2 separate regions of the Homo sapiens genome follow, and region 1 is linked to region 2. The links come from fine-mapping of genetic effects on gene expression. Tissue or cell type: whole blood. Region 2 holds a variant in brackets; the other region holds the start of a gene. All regions are shown on one strand. Distances are from middle to middle.

What was found. PIP is the estimated chance that this variant, and not a neighbour inherited with it, causes the effect.
Region 1: it holds the start of RSU1, and the variant in region 2 is fine-mapped to the expression of RSU1 in whole blood (TOPMed, PIP 0.97).

Annotation. Positions count from the first base shown.
Region 1 is chr10:16,814,165-16,822,308 of GRCh38, forward strand. It overlaps RSU1 (Ras suppressor protein 1), which reads right to left and starts at 3,260. Exons shown (of 9, transcript NM_012425.4): 1 at 3,151-3,260; 2 at 2,809-2,920. The coding sequence starts at 2,917. LOC105376435 (a long non-coding RNA gene) reads left to right here and starts at 3,535. Exons shown (of 3, transcript XR_930708.3): 1 at 3,535-3,592; 2 at 4,517-4,578; 3 at 6,664-7,093. RefSeq lists enhancers at 2,739-2,898, 3,569-3,678, 3,709-3,798, 3,829-3,878.
Region 2 is chr10:16,707,995-16,716,188 of GRCh38, forward strand. All of the region lies in intron 7 of RSU1 (Ras suppressor protein 1), which reads right to left. LOC124902384 (a long non-coding RNA gene) reads right to left here. Exons shown (of 2, transcript XR_007062072.1): 2 at 8,003-8,194. Among named protein-coding and RNA genes, the nearest start is that of RSU1, 110 kb to the right of the region's middle. The variant C/A (reference allele first, on the strand shown) is at 4,499.

The sequences.
Region 1 (8,144 bases), 110 kb after region 2:
TGTGGTAGCTCACATGTGTAATGCCAGCACTTTAGGAGGCCAAGATGGGGGCACTCCTTGAGCCCAGGAGTTTGAGGCCAGCCTGGGCAGCATAGCAAGACCCCATCTCTACAAAGAAATAAAAAATAAAACCATTAGCCAGGCGTGGTGGCGTGTACCTATAGTCCCAGCTACTCGGGAGGCTGAGGTGGGAGGATTGCTTGAGCCTGGGAGGGTGAGGCCCCAGGGAGCTGTGACTGCACCACTGCATTCCAGCCTGGGTGACAGAGCGAGACCCTGTTTTCAGGAAAAAAAAAAAAAAAAAGAAAAAAAAATTCTTACACTTATAATTAATGTAGCCATGTGAAGTATTTTAATACTTGTATATATTAAGCACTGTGTCAGTGTGTGTGCACTGCTGAGAAGTGAGCCCTGGTGGAGGCTTCGAAGAGCATCCTGGAACCCCCTAGGCTCCGAGAAGTCCTGAGGTCAGGGAGTTTGCAGAGAGCAGCCTTGGCTCAATGCTACAGAAGCCAGAGGAGATGGAATCTGCAAATCTCCAAATTCACTTCCACCCAACTTCCCAAAAAGTACTATTATCCGTTGTTAGCTACTTCTTTAGGAAAATTTAAGAATGATCTCGCTTTTCACCACCCAATGTTATACCGGAAATATATTTCAGGAAGCAAGTGGCTTTTCTTCCTTAATAAAAGCCAAGGCTTCAAAGAGATAACGGAGCTGAACCGAAATAGCTAAGCCATTCTCCCCATTTATAAATATTACATAAAGTCTCCTCTTCAAAAGCCGAAGGGTACAAAGCTCCTCTGCTGAAAGCAGCCTCTCTTCTACCTGGTGAGAATGAGTGCTGTAGGGAGGAAGGCCATGGGGCCAAGGTTCCCGCTATGCATCATCTTCCCTATCCCCTTCTCTTTCTCCTCTGTATCAACAGTGCCCCCAATAATGACCATGGTCATGGCAGAGCCGGGCAGGCGCAGCAAGGGGCAAACTCAGATATCCAATTCCAGAGGCATCTGCTCAGTTGCTGACAGCAAGGACCCTTACGGAATGCAAGAGACCAACACACACCAAGCCTGAGAGGCTAACTAGTACACAACCTAAGTTTAATGGCACGTATTTTCATAAAGCCTACGAAACGCAAATCTACGTTTCCTCCCTTTTCCTTCTGCCAAGACATATCAATAGCATCAACTCCAACCTCTGTCCCAGGCAGGTTTTCGAACCGTGAAAACCGTGAATTCACAGTAAACCTGACTCTGCAGTTCTCTCCATGCCTAAATGGCTATCCATCGCCTTTCAGGGTCTCCTGAACATCTCCCTTCTTCTCTCTTGTCACATCCTGGAGTTGATATCCCAAACTCACAGGCCTAATCCATCATTCTTTCATTTTCTTCATTCCTCAACTATTTTTGAGCATCTACTGTGCTCCAGGCACTATTATTAAAAAAATGCAAGCATGAATATTGCACAGCTTTTGTCTTCCCAATGTCCCAGCAGAGAAGAGAGACTTCTAGATTAAAAAAGAAAAAAATCAGTACAATCCTATGTGAGAGGAGTCACAAAGCAATACACACGACCACCTTCACAGAGGAGGGAAGGGATATGTTAGCCTGGTGCAGACGGATAAGGTTTTACACAGGTGGTGATGTCTAAGCTGACTCTTAGAAGTAAAAGGATTTCAGGTGCAAACGACTGAGAAAGAGGGAAAACAGAATTTGTAAAGGCACCAAGATCTGAACGAGTAGGCTCTGGTCCAGGAAGGGCAACAGGTTCAGAATGGCTGGAATGCCAGCTGCATGGAAGGGTAAGGTTGTGTTCAGATTCAGAAAGGCCTTGTACATCACGCCAAGAAACCTGGAGCATTACCGTCGATAATGGACAACCTGGAGAAGTGCGGAGAGGGTTTAAACCAAAGCCACGTCAGCCTGAAGAACTGCTTTAGCTCACTTATCACAGGTTTTTCAAATATTAGAATTAGTAGCCAACATCTAAAAATTAGCAAATTTCACATAAAAATATAGAATCTTGGTTCCTTTAAGAAAATAATCTGGCACATTGGGCCAACATTCCTATGGTGACATGTGTCTGAGTAGCAGGTGCAGCAGCTGGCCCCTTCAAGTGGGACACCTATCACCTAGTTCATAACCGCCCCTGACCGCCCTCACTTGGAGGCATGTGAATCTGCAATCCCTGGTTTTAAGGGAGAGGGTAACACCATAGACAGGGGTTACAGGAAAATGACACTGAAAGTGACCCAGTGATTAAACTGGGCAGTGAAACTGAAGGCAAGAGGGCAAGTTAGGAGGATTTCACCACAGCATGAGGAGGTGACAAAAGCCTGAACCAAGTTCGGAGAATAAATACTCAGAAGAATGTAAAGATTCAAGAAATGCTTAAAACGCTCCAGGCACAAGAATGCTTATTAACCATGGAACTTTTCTGTGTCATTTGTTCATGGACAAAGACTGTATTAGGAGACAGGAAGAAGGACTCAAAATTAATTTTCAATTTATAATTAAAGTGACTATTAAGCAAACTGTGGAAAATCCACCTCAATGCCATACAGCAGAGACAACCGATGAGGCACAGCTGTCTGTGTGATTCTCATCGTGGACTCTCAGGATCGTTTTCCAGGTGGAACAGAACAAATCCTACTGCAAACCCTCTGCGCGAAGCCCCTGACAAGTGAGGTTTACAAGCAGGGGCTGGGGTCTAAACCAGTACAATCGCTCACAGCAGGACCAGCAGTGAATTGGCAAACTTAGAAAGCCTTCCAGCTCATCCACGGGAGAGTCCTGCCCGAGAACTCACAGAGGCCGTTGACATCCAGCATGTTGGAGATGCCCCGGTCACTCATGTCCACCTCGGGCTGGTTCTTCTCCCGGCTCTCCTCCACCAACTTCTTCAGAGACTTGGACATGGTCTGCACCGAACAACAACAAAGCACGTGGGCGATGACAGCAAGCGCAGAGGCGGAAAGGCAAGAGGCCTTCGCTGCCACTCTGAGGCTTCCCCAGGGTTGGAGCGGGTGGGCGTCCGAGGGCGTCCCAGGGGCTGGTCCGGGTGCGGGGAGGGGATGGAGTGGGAAGGGTTCAGCCCCGCTGCGGCCACGCAGCGAGAAGCAACCCCAAGTGCAACACCGCACACACTCACCACGGAAGGTAGCCCCTAAGACGATGGGCGTGCAACCACAAGCTTCGGCAGAACGCACTCCAGCTGCCCTCACTCCCTGCAACACCGGCACTGAACAGCGAACACGCCCTGTCTCGGCGCCCCGCGCAGGCGCACACAGCGCCGCTGCCAGCTCCACGCCCGACCCTACCCATATTAGGAGAACAGCTCTCCAGACGTGTCTCCAGGGCCAGGCTCCGCCCTTAAAAGTCTGTGGAAGAGGCTGGCTAATCACGTTCGTTATTCGGCTTCGAGACCCCGCCCCACGCTGAGGATAGTTTATCCCGGTGGCGTCCACCCCACGGTTTGGGACGCTGATTGGGCCGAAGTTGGCGCGTGCGCAGTAGACTTGGCGCAAGCTCAGTTGATGGGTCGAAGCCCAGAGGGCTGTGGGCGGAAGTGGGGAAGTTTGTGGCGTGACTGTGTAAGGGAGGGTGGTGGCTCAGGGTGGGTGTTGCGAAAGCTGGAAGTAAATTGCTTCCGAATGTTTCGCTTGTGTAATAGCCGCTCCACTCGCCAGAAGTTGCTACCCTGAGCCCGTCTCCACAATGTGCCTCTGAGGGACCTTGTGGGGCACGCAGTTTCCCGCCCTATTAAGAGCTTCTCCAGGCGGGGATTCCGGCGCGGTCTGCGTTTCCCCAGCGCCCTGCTGGAAATCTTTTTTGACAGGTTTCTAAGGCTGGCTTTTAGCCTTTTTACTTGTAGCTAGAACCTACAAGTAAAACCCTACTATTTTAAAAGTCATTTGAAAACACCACTAAAGCGATGTGTCTTTCCCAACTAGGACTTTTACATTTGTGAAACATGACGTTCTGGCTTCCAGGAATCTCTTGCTTTCTCTTCCAAAAGCAACCAAATTTTAAATTCTAGAGAAACTGTTGCCCTCTGCCTCCCTATTTCCTGACCCAGTCTCAGTCACCCAGCAACATCCTGTGCTTCTCTCACCAAAAACCCTGTCCTGAGAGACTATTTTATACTATGGAATAAAAATTGGCACCAGGCACTTTTCTTCTACTGGTCACCTAAATTGATGATAAGACGGATGCCACACATATGCATTTATATATTGTAGATTGTAGCAGGGATCAAAGCCTTAAGGAGATGTGGTAAAATAATGTAATTATATCTCCGAACCAATTGGATAAAAAAAGGATCTGCACTCTTAAATTCGAAAGCAGGTATTTCTTGCTTAAAAAACATTCCAGATGAAAGAGTTATTCCTCCATTAGTCTTCTTTGATCTGGAACCGTCCTTGGCTTTTATGTTTATTGAACTAGACATTATTTAAGAATACAGACCAGGTATTGTGTGGAATATCCTTCAAAGTAAGTTTGATGTTCCCTTTCAGGTTATGAATTTTTGGAGAAACACCACTAAAGCGATGTGTCTTTTCCAGTGCATGATATCAAGGTACAGATGGCATCGGTTTCTCCCAGTATAGGTGATGTTCACTTAAATAAGGTAGTGTCTGCCAGGTTTCTTCACCATAAAGTTACTATTTTTTTCTTTATGATTAAAAATAATGCTGGGGGGAGGTGCTACTTGATTACACCCCATTCCTCATCTAATTTTTACCCACAAGTTTTAGCATCCACTGATGATTTTCTAACTTCATAATTTCATCAATACGTATTAGTAGGTAATCTCCTAATACATTTATTTCTTGAATCATTAACTCTTTTAAAGCAAAAGTCCTGTTTTGAAGCAATCAGAATTTTTCTTATTCTATCAATTTCTAATAGTGAATCTTGCCTAGGTAGGCTGAAGACATACAGTACCTGTGTTAGTCGGCTAGGGCTGTCGTAACAATATACCACAGCCTGGATGGCTTAAACAACAGAAATTTCTCACAATCCTGGAAGTTCTAGATCAAGGTGCCAGCAGATTTGATTTATCCTGTGGCCTCTCCCCTGCCTCGTGGACGACTGTCTTCTCTTGGTGTCCCTCCAGGGCATTTTCTCTATGCAGTCACACCCTTGGTGTCTCTTCTTCTAAGGACACCAGTCCTATTGGACTGCCGGCCTATAATAACACCCTGCATTTGTTTCATGAATGTACTCTCTTCTCAGGTATCACCGAGGATAATAGTTTTTAAACCTCTCTTCTGTTCACTCAATTATGTTTCTTCAAGGGTCCATTCTTACGTGTATTTATCTAGTCTTTTCCCTAGAAAAGAAAGATTCTTCCCCTCTCTGGTGATTGATTCTTGGTTGTTCTTTTGAGTTCAAGTGTGAAGATCTGAACTGGTTTTTCTAGATAGCTGGAGTGGTCTCTTGTTTGTTTGTATTGTTTTCCTCCTAGATCCCTAGACTGATAGTCGAATTTCTTCAGAGGCAAGAACCCAGTATTATGCCTGCAGGTCATCACCCGGCTACCTTTGCAGGTGGAGGGAAATGGTGGATTGTGAGTGCCAGTTAGGGCAACTCCCTGACTTTGGTTTTAGCCCCTCACACTGCACCAGCCAGCCCCACATCCAGGTTACACCTGGAACAGAGAGTCCCAGCCCTCCTGCATGTCTCTCTTGAAGTTATTTTGAGCTGCATGCCTCCATTCACTTCTGTTTCATAGGAATTTGTTTTCACTCCTGTTTGAGATAGGAAAAACCAAACTGTTTTTGCTACTCTCCACTGGCTCAACACTTCTGACACCAGAGAATCCCCCACACATGAAACAGTTCTCCAGCAGACACCAGCTCGGTGTCTTACAGTTTAACTTAATTCTGACACTGTCTACCTCAACTTATAGTCAAATCCCACAAGTTAAGGGTTCATTTCCACAAGACTTTAGGTTGACTGTCACCTACACTTCTGACTGACCAGCTATAAATCAGGGTTCCCACACCCCCTTCTCAGGTTTGATTAATTTGCTAGGATGATGGTTAGCCTGTCCAGGGTCCTGATTGCTAGCAGTGAAACTTCATGGTGACACAATTTGGAATCAGGAAACTTATCCCTTGGCCACTAGATCTGGGAAGTTGGCTCAATGTATGTTTCACCAGATAAGAATATTAAGGTTTTTGCCTCAGGACTGGCTCAGGAAATCAAGCAAGATGGAGCTGGGAAGTGTGCTTTGTGAAGCTGGGAGACATCAGCTGATAGTCTTGTATGGCTGTCTTGTTCTCTGCTTTATCCTCAGTGCGCTGAGTACGTATCACATAGCTGATGCTCAATAAACATTTGGAAACAAGTGAATTAAATGTAAAGCAGAACCAGAGGATATACGGTGGGTCTTACGAATGAGAGTACAGTTGACTCTTTTCTCCTTCTTCCAGCTGAATTACTCAAAAACTGAATTACTCAATAACTACTTCCCTTGGCTATACACGAAAATGTCATGCTCCCAAGCCTGACCATCCCTAACCCACTAAAAAATCACTGCTTATTTCCTAGATGCCCAGCCTGGAAGATTTTGTAAAGCTTCATTTTGTCTCTTTTTTTCTGTATTTTTAATTTTAAAATTACATAATAATATTGACTATGCTTTCCTCAATTTCAGGTACACACTTCCCAGATATTCCAATATGCCTCCTAGAAAAGCATGCCCTTCTGAGTGGAAATGATACCGTTACTCTAATGATGCAGTCCATGCTCTAAGCATCATTTTTTTGACAGTGACATCATGTTAATCTTTCTTTCAGAAAAGTACTATGTCATTTCATGTTATTGTTAAACTTTCCCTGTATTCTGTACTTTTGCAATTCATTTTTTGATAAAAGAGGAAGATCTTATATCTGTCACATTTCGTCTGTTACAATTGGCCCATTGTTGTAGCTTATCAAGACCTTTTGGATTTGATGGTGTTACTTATCGCATTCACTGTCCTTTCCAATGTAATTGTCACCCATAAAGTTGATATGTCTATCCATAATACAAAAAGGGAGCAGGAATTGTTGTTGTTGTTGTTTGTTTTTTTGAGATGGAGTCTCATTCTGTAACCCACACTGGAGTGAAGTGGCGCGATGTTGGCTCACTGAAACCTCCGCCTCCTAGGTTCAAGTGATTGTCCAGCCTCAGCCTCCTGAGTAGCTGAATTTTCAAGGTTAGAGTATTTTATTTCTGTGGCTCCATACTCTGTCCAGAAATAATTATCTGCCATTTGAGTATTAGAGTAAGATGAAGTTACATTCCTCAGCTTCTCTCATTCACATGGTCTTTTGTTAATAACCCTTGATTTTGCATAATTAACATAAAGCAAATCTCCTTTGTAAAGGCTTCCGCTTTTCTAGAGGCACTGAAAAACTTTATAAAAGCATTGAATTTTCTTATGAAAAGGAAGCTAATAACTACCTCACTTAGTTACATGTCTGGCAGCATTGGAGATAAGGATGTGCTACTGAACTTTCTACTTCTTGTTAAGTGGCAAACCATATTGTTTATTTATAACTTAACATATTGTGTTAAGGAATAGGCAATGGTGGTGCTTATGGAAACTTTGTACTCCTGAGCGTAAATACATAATAGAGTTTGGATATTTGTCCCTGCTCAAATCTCATGTTGAGTTATAAAAGCCAGTGTTGGAGATCGGCCTGGTGGGAGGTGTTTAGATCGTGGGGGTAGATCCCTCATGAATGGCTTGGGCCATACCCTTGGTGATAAGTGAGCTCTTGCTCTGAGTTCACATGAGAGCTGGCCACTTAAAAGTGTGTGGCACCTGTCCCATACTCTCGCTGTCTTGCTCCTGCTTTCACCGTGTGACATGCCTGTTTCCCCTTCGCCTTCCTCCATGATTATAAGCTTCCTGAGGCTGCCCCAGAAGCCAAGCAGATGTCAGCACCATGTTTCCTATAAAGCCTGCAGAGCTGTGAGCAGATTAAACCTCTTTTCTTTATAAGTTACCCAGTCTCGGGTATTTCTTTATAGCAATGCAAGAATGATCTATTACAGAAAATTGGTACCAGGAGTGGGGTTTTGTTATAAAGATACCTGAAAATGTGGAACTGACTTTGGAACAAGATAATGGGTAGAGGTTGGAAGAGT
Region 2 (8,194 bases):
TTGCCACCATTATGAAAAATTAGTTGGCTATAGGTATGTAAATTTATTTGTCGGCTCTCTATTCTGTTCCACTGGTTTATGCGTCTGTTTTTAAAGCCAGTAACATGTTTAGGTTCCCATAACTTTGTAGTAGCAGTGACCCTTGAACAACTTTTGACTTCCCCCAAAAAACTATTAATAGCCTACTATTGATCAGAAACCTTACGGATAACATAGTCAATTAACATATTTTGTCTGTTACATACATTATATACTATATTCTTACAATAAAGCTAGAGAAAATGTCATTAAGAAAAACATAAGGAAGAGTAAATATATTTATTATTTATTAAGTGGATGTGGAGTATTATAAAGGTCTTCATCCTCATTGTCTTCCTGGTGAGTAGGCTTCCTGTTGAGGGATTTGTCTTGCTGTTTCAGGGGTGGCAGAAGCAGAAGAAAATCTACATAAAAGTGAGCCTGCACAGTTTAAATCTAAGTTCTTTAGGAGTCAACTGTACATTTTGAACTTGGTTGGTGTGATACCTGCAGGTTTTTCTTTTTGCTCAGGGTTGCTTTGGCTATTTGGGTCCTTTTGTGGTTCCATATGAATTTTAGGATTTTTTTTTCTATCTGTGTAAAGAATGTCATTAGTATTTTGATAGGAATTGCATCAAATCTGTAGATTATTTTAGGTAATATGGCCATCTTAACTATATTAATTCTTCCAAACCATGAAGACAAAGTAGCTTGCCATTTATTTGTGTCCTCTTCAATTTCTTTTGTTAAAGTTTTAGAGTTTCAATATAGAGAGCTTTCAATTTGGTTTTGTTTCTATTATCTTTTTTTTTTTAAGCTATCGTAAATGGAGCTGTTTTCTTGATTTCTTTTTCAGATAGTTAATGAACCAATATTAATAATGGTTAATATATAGAAAGACTACTGATTCTTGTATGCTGATTTTGTATCCCATAACTACTGAATTCATTTATTAGTTCTACCAGTTCTTTAGTAGAGTCCTTTGGTTTTTTTTTTTTAATTATACTTTAAGTTTTAGGGTACATGTGCACAATGTGCAGGTTACATATGTATACATGTGCCATGCTGGTGTGTTACACCCATTAACTCGTCATTTAGCATTAGATGTATCTCCTAATGCTATCCCTCCCCCCTTCCCCCACCCCACAACAGGCCCCAGAGTGTGATGTTCCCCTTCCCGTGTCCATGTGTTCTCATTGTTCAATTCCCATCTATGAGTGAGAACATGAGGTGTTTGGTTTTTTGTCCTTGCGATAGTTTACTGAGAATGATGATTTCCAATTTCATCCATGTACCTACAAAGGACATGAACTCATCATTTTTTATGGCTGCATACTATTCCATGGTGTATATGTGCCACATTTTCTTAATCCAGTCTATCATTGTTGGACATTTCGGTTGGTTCCAAGTCTTTGCTATTGTGAATAGTGCCGCAATAAACATACGTGTGCATGTGTCTTTATAGCAGCATGATTTATAGTCCTTTGGGTATATACCCAGCAATGGGATGGCTGGGTCAAATGGTATTTCTAGTTCTAGATCCCTGAGGAATCCCCACACTGACTTCCACAATAGTTGAACTAGTTTACAGTCCCACCAACAGTATAAAAGTGTTCCTATTTTTCCACATCCTCTCCAGCACCTGTTGTTTCCTGACTTTTTAACGATTGCCATTCTAACTGGTGTGAGATGGTATCTCATTGTGGTTTTGATTTGCATTTCTCTGATGGCCAGTGATGATGAGCATTTTTTCATGTGTCTTTTGGCTGCATAAATGTCTTCTTTTGAGAAGTGTCTGTTCATATCCTTTGCCCACTTTTTGATGGGGTTGTTTTTTTCTTGTAAATTTGTTTGAGTTCATTGTAGATTCTGGATATTAGCCCTTTGTCAGATGAGAAGGTTGCCAAAATTTTCTCCCATTCGGTTTTCTATATGTAAGATCATGTCTGCAAACAGGACAATCTGACTTCCTCTTTTCCAATTTGGATGCCTTTTATATCTTTCTCTTCCCTAATGGCTTAGGCTAGGACTTCCAGTACTATGTTGAACAGAAGTAGCAGAAGTTGGCATCCTTGTCTTGTTCCATATATTAAAAGAAAGCTTTTCCTCATTCAGTATGATGTCAGCTGTGGGTTTTTCATACATGACATTTACTGTGTTAAGGTACATACCTTCCATAACTAATTTGTTGAGTTTTTATGAAAGAATGTTGAAGGATGTCAAATGCTTTTTCTGCATCTACTGAAATGATCATATTGTTTTTGTCTCTTTTTGTTAATGTGATGTATTACACTTATTGACTTGCATACGTTAAACTACCCTTGCAACACTGGTATGAGTAATACTTGATCACAGTGAATGATCTTTTTAATGTGCTGCTGGATTCAGTTTGTTAATATCTTATTAAGAATTTCTGCATCTATGTTCACATTACAGATACTTACCTGTAGTTTTGCTGTTGTTGTTGTATCGTTGTCTGGTTTCAGGATCAGGGTAATGCTGGCCTCATAAAATTTTACAAATACTCCCCACTTATCAATTTTCTGGAATAGTTTGAGGAGAACTGTTATTAGTTCTTCTTCAAATGTTTTGTAGAATTCAGTAGTGAAGCCATCAGGTCCTAAGCTTTTCTTTGATGAAACATTTTTTTTAAATTTTTTTATTTTTTATTATACTTTAAGTTCTGGGATATATGTGCAGAAAGTGCAGGTTTGTTACATAGGTATACATGTGTCATGGTGGTTTGCTGAACCCATCAACCCATCATCTACATTAGGAATTTCTCCAATGCTATCCCTCCTCTTACCCCCTACCCGCCGACAGGTCCCAGTGTGTAATGCTCCCCTCCGTGTGTCCATGTGTTCTCATTGTTCAACTCCCACTTATCAGTGAGAACATGCAATGTTTGATTTTCTGTTCCTGTGTTAGTTTGCTGAAAATGATGGTTTCCAGCTTCATCCATGTTCCTGCAAAGGACATAAAGTCTTTCTTTTTTATGGCTGCACAGTATTCCACATGGTGTATATGTGCCACATTTTCTCTATCCAGGAAAGACTTTTTATAACTAATTGTCTCACTAGTTATTAGTCTGTTCAGATCTTTAATTTCTTTATAATTGAATCTCAGTAGTTTGTATATGTCCAAGAACTTATCTATTTCTTCCATATTATCAAATTTGTTGGCATATAGCAGCTCATAATATTCTCTATAATTTTCTGTATTTCTGTAGTATCAGTTGTAACATCTCCTTTTCCATCTCTGATTTTACTTGAGTCTTGTTTTTTTTAGTCTAGCTTAAAGTTTGTTGATTTTGCTTATCTTTTCAAAAAAACCAACTCTTCGTTTTCTTGATCTTTTGAATGTTAATTTGTCTTTATTTCTTCTCTGAGCCTTATTCTACCTTTCCTTCTATCAATTTTGGGTTCAGTTTGTTCTTGTTTTTCTAGTTCCTTGTGGTACGTCATTAGGTTGTTCATTAAAAATCTCTCTTCTTTTCTAATGTAGCTGTGTATTGCTATAAAATTCCCTGTTAGAACTGCTCTCTCGCTGTGTCTCACAGGTTTTGGTAAGATGTGTTTGCATTCTTGTTTGTCTCAAAGCAATTTTTCATTTCTCTGTTAATTTAATTGACCCACTGGTTGTTGAGGGCCATGTTGTTTAATTTCCACGTATTTCAAAGTATCCAAAGTTGCTCATGTTGTTGTTTTCTAGTTTCATACCACTGTGGTTAGAAAAGATACTTGATAGGATCTCTATCTCAAATCTGTTAAGATTTGTTTTGTGGCCTAGCATGTGCTCTATCCTGGAGAATGTTTCATGTGTAATTGAGAAGAATTTGTATTCTGCAGCTGTTAAAATGTTCTGTAAATATCTGCTAGGTGCATTAGGTCTTTGATGTAGTTTTAGTCTGATATTTCTTTGCCAAACTTCCCTTTTATAATTGTATTGCAGTTGATCTGTACCTTTATGTGCAATCATGTTTGTTTTGTACATCTGTATGTTTCAGGGTTGAGTGCATATGTATTTGTTACAATATTCTCTTATTGAATTTATCCTTTAATCATGACATAATGACCTTTTTTCTTTTTCCAGTTTTTGACTTAAAATCTGTCTTATCTGATACAATTATAGCTACTCCTGCTCACTTTTGGTTTCTGTTTGTATGGAATATGTTTTTCCATTCCTTCACTTTCAGTTTATGTTTGTCTTTAATGATGATGTGAGCCTCTTGTAGCCAGCAGATAGTTGGGTCTTATTTTTAAAACCTGTTCGACCACTCTGTGTTTTTAAATTTGAGACTTTAATCCATTTATATTCAAGGTCATATCAATAAAAATTTATTCCTGCCATATTGTTGTTTTCTGCTTGTTTTGTAGATCCTTTTCCCCTTTCTTTTACTCATGTTATTTTCCTTCGCGGTTTGGTGGTTTTCTGTGCTGCGAAGTTTTGTTTTCTTTCTCTTTACTGTTTATTATTCTGT[C/A]GTAATTTCTTTCTTTGTGGTTACCATGGGGCTAACATAAGAGTCTTGTAGTTACAATAGACTACATCAACCTGATAGCAATTTAAATCTGGTTGCATGAAAATATTCTAGACTTAACCCCATACACAATTAATATTTTTGTTGCCTTAATCTACTTATTTATTATATATTTGTAGCCACTAAGTGTGGTTGTTGTTGTTTTTGACCTTTTTGACTTCTAAGTCTTCATACTAGAGGATTGAGAGATTTACATAGGACCATTAAATCACTAGAGTATTTTATGAATTTACCTCTACTAGTGAGTTTTACACCTTCACATGTTTTCATGATAATTATTGTCCTTTCTTTTCCAGTGGTAGCACTCCCTTAAGCATTCCTTATAAGGCCAACCTACTGGTCACAAATTCTCTCAGCCTTTGCTTGTCTGAAAAGGTCTTATTTCTCCTTCATTTCTGAAGGATAACTTTGTTGGATATAATATTCTTGGCTGACAGTTCCTCCTCCCCACAAGCCCCCCTTCTTTCAGCACTTTGAATATATCATCCCATTCTCTTCTAACCTGCAAGGTTTCTGCTGAGAAATCTACTAGTAGTCTAATGGACATTCCCTTGTGTGTGATGTGACACTGTTTTCTTGTGGCTTTTAAAATTCTGTCTTTAACTTTTGAGAGTATGATTATAATGTGCCTCAGAGAGGACTGAATCTAACTGGGGACCTCTGAACTTGCTGAATTCCTATGTCCGTATTTCTGCCAAGACTAGGGAAGTTTTCATCTATTATTTCATTACATAGGTTTTCTGTGTCTTTCTCCAACTCTTCTCCCTACGAAGTTCCTATAATGCACACATTTGTTCATTTAATGGTATCGCATGAGTCCCACAGGCTTTCTTCAATTAAAATTCTTATTTTTTTTTCCCTCTGACTGGGATAATTCAAGAGGCCTGTCTTCAAGTTCAGAAATTACTCTGCCTGATCTAGTCTGTTGTTGAAGCTTTCACTTGCACTTTTTATTTCATTCATAATTCCTCAGCTCCAAGATTTCTGTTTGGTTCTTTATGACACTTATCTTTGTTGCATTTCTCATTCGGATGATGAATTGTTTTCCTGATCTCACTGAATTATTTGCTGTATTCTCTTGTATCTCCATGAGTTTCCTTAAGATTATCTTATTTTCAGGCATTTCATAAATGTCCTTTTCTTTGGGGTCTTTTACTAAAGACTTATTGTATTCCTTTGCAGGTATCACATTTCCTTGCTTTTTCACATTGCTTGTGTCCCTATGCTGATATCTGAACATCTAGTGGAATAGTGACCCTTTCCAGGTTTATGAAGTAACTTTCATTAGGAGATAATTCTTCCTGTAGATAGGTCCCAAGGTGTCATTTGAGTGTGGTGAGTTAGCTTTAGTTCTGGGTGGACTCAGTAGCATGGTCTACATGTAGTTTTTTCAGCTGCAATCTTCATCAGCAATGTCTGCAATTGCCTCAATGGCCTATGCTGTAGGTATTTGTGGTGGTCGTAGTGTGTGGTTTTGCTGGGAGTAGGGGTGTTGGGCTGGCTGTTGGGCTGAATATGTATGGGTGTGGAGGGCGAAAAGGCTCTCCAACAGGCTTTTCAGGGAGGTGGGGCCACCACTAGTCTGGCTGTTGGGCTGAGCTTAGGTGCATATGGGTGTGGCTAGCTGAGCAGCTACGTGGCTGTCTCTTCAAGAGGATGGATGAAGAGTCTACTGGTCTGATGCTGTGCCAGCTGCACATAGGTGCAGCTGTGTCAGGTGGCCCTGTAGGAGTCTGTCTAGAGGAGCAGGTCCACCACTGGCCCAGCTCTTGGGCTGGATGCCAGTGTGAAATGGGGTTGGGCAGCCTTGCAGTTATTTGGGAGGGAGGGCTGCTACTGGACCAGCTGTCAGGCTAGACATAGAATAGCAGCATTCAGCTGCTCTTTGGGTGTCTGTATGCGGGAACGAGGCTGCCACAGGACCAACAGTTGGACCAGCTATGGATGCACCGCGCTTGGTGGGACAGGTGGCTATGGTGCAGGTACGTGCAGGAGAGGTAATTGGCTGACTGTTCAGTGACTTCAGCACCGTACAGATCTGCCTGTTCCCTGGGGGGTGGGGGGATGTGGTGTGTCACTTGGGTTTGAACACTGGGGTCTCAGTCATTCCATGTGACCTATGCTTTGGGTAGCTATGGTCATAGTGCTGCAGGTACCTGTGTGAATGTGGTATAAGGACAGCTAGGCCTCCAGGATGAAAAGAGTCAATTGCTACTGGTGCGCAGGGCAGGATGCACTCTAGCAGTGGGAAAGGTTCAAGATGGGACAGAGTTGAAGCTGCTTAGGTTGCGGGTCCTCAATGTGGACACTGAGGCATTGCATCTGTGTGAGCTCCCGGCTACTCTCCAAACTGGATTGGGGGCCTGTGAAGTTTAGGGGACTCCTATATCAAAGACTGCTAGCATTTCTGGTGGCAATGGGGACTGCTGGGAATCACCAGCATACATTTCCCCATAAACAGCACCCCATGACTGCCAAGTCTCCACTGGGGGAGACTGTGGCAGAGGCAGGATGCCTCGCTCACCTGTCCATGGTGCTGTCCTGGCCTTCCATGCACCACAGGAAGTTTGCTGCTCCCCTAGTGCGGTCCAGCATACTTCCTCGTCACTCTAGTTGAAATATAGTTGTTTACTTGTTGTTTAGATCCCCTTTTGGGGGAGGGATGAGCACTAGGCAACTCTCATTGGCCATATTGCTCTGGGTTGCCTTTTCATTGTGTTGATGTTGTCTTTTGATGCACAAAATTCTTAAATTTTCATGAAGTCCAATTTGCCTATTTTTTCTTTTGTTGTCTGTGCCTTTGGTGTCATAGCCAAGAAGTCATCTTAAAGTCCAACGTCTTGAAGATTTTATCCTACAATTTCCCCTAAAATTTTTATAGTTGTAGTTCTTACATTTAGGTTTTTTATTCATTTTGAGTTAATTCTTCTATATGTTATTAGGCAAGGGTCCAACTTCATTCTTTTGCATATGCCTATGTAGTTTTTCACTTCATCATTTCTTAACAAGACTGTCTTTTCCCCATTGAGTGGTTTGGGCACACTTGTCAAAAAATCACTTGACCATTTAGGCAAGGATTTATTTCTGGGGTCTCTATTCTATTCCATTGGTCAATATATCTGCCTTTAGGCCAGTACCACACTGTTTTGACTACTGGAACTGTAGCAAGTTTGAAATCAGGAATTGTTAAATCCTTCAGTTTTGTTCTTTCTCAAGGTTGTTTTGACTACTTGAGGTCTGTTGCAATTCCATATGAACTTTAGGGTGGGATTTTCTATTTCTGCAAAAAACATCAGCGAGATTTTCATAGCGAGTGCATTAAATCTACAGATTGCTTTAGATAGTGTGATATACTTCACTAATAGGTCAGAACAAGTATTTTTAGCAGGTTGCATTTAAATATAGGCAAGCATTTCCCTATTCAAGAGTCAAAACAAAGTAGAAAAATTTTTCTTAATCAGATAATTTATTTACACAGTCTTTAAAAAGAACAAAATCTCATGTAAGTATATGTTGAACAAATCTTCTTAAAAGAATAAAATCTCCTTAGTCGGAATTCTTGATGAAAATCATCACACAGAGATTATGGAAACTGAAACTATCTCAGAAAAAGTTCAAATGTAGGAAAAGGAAGAACGG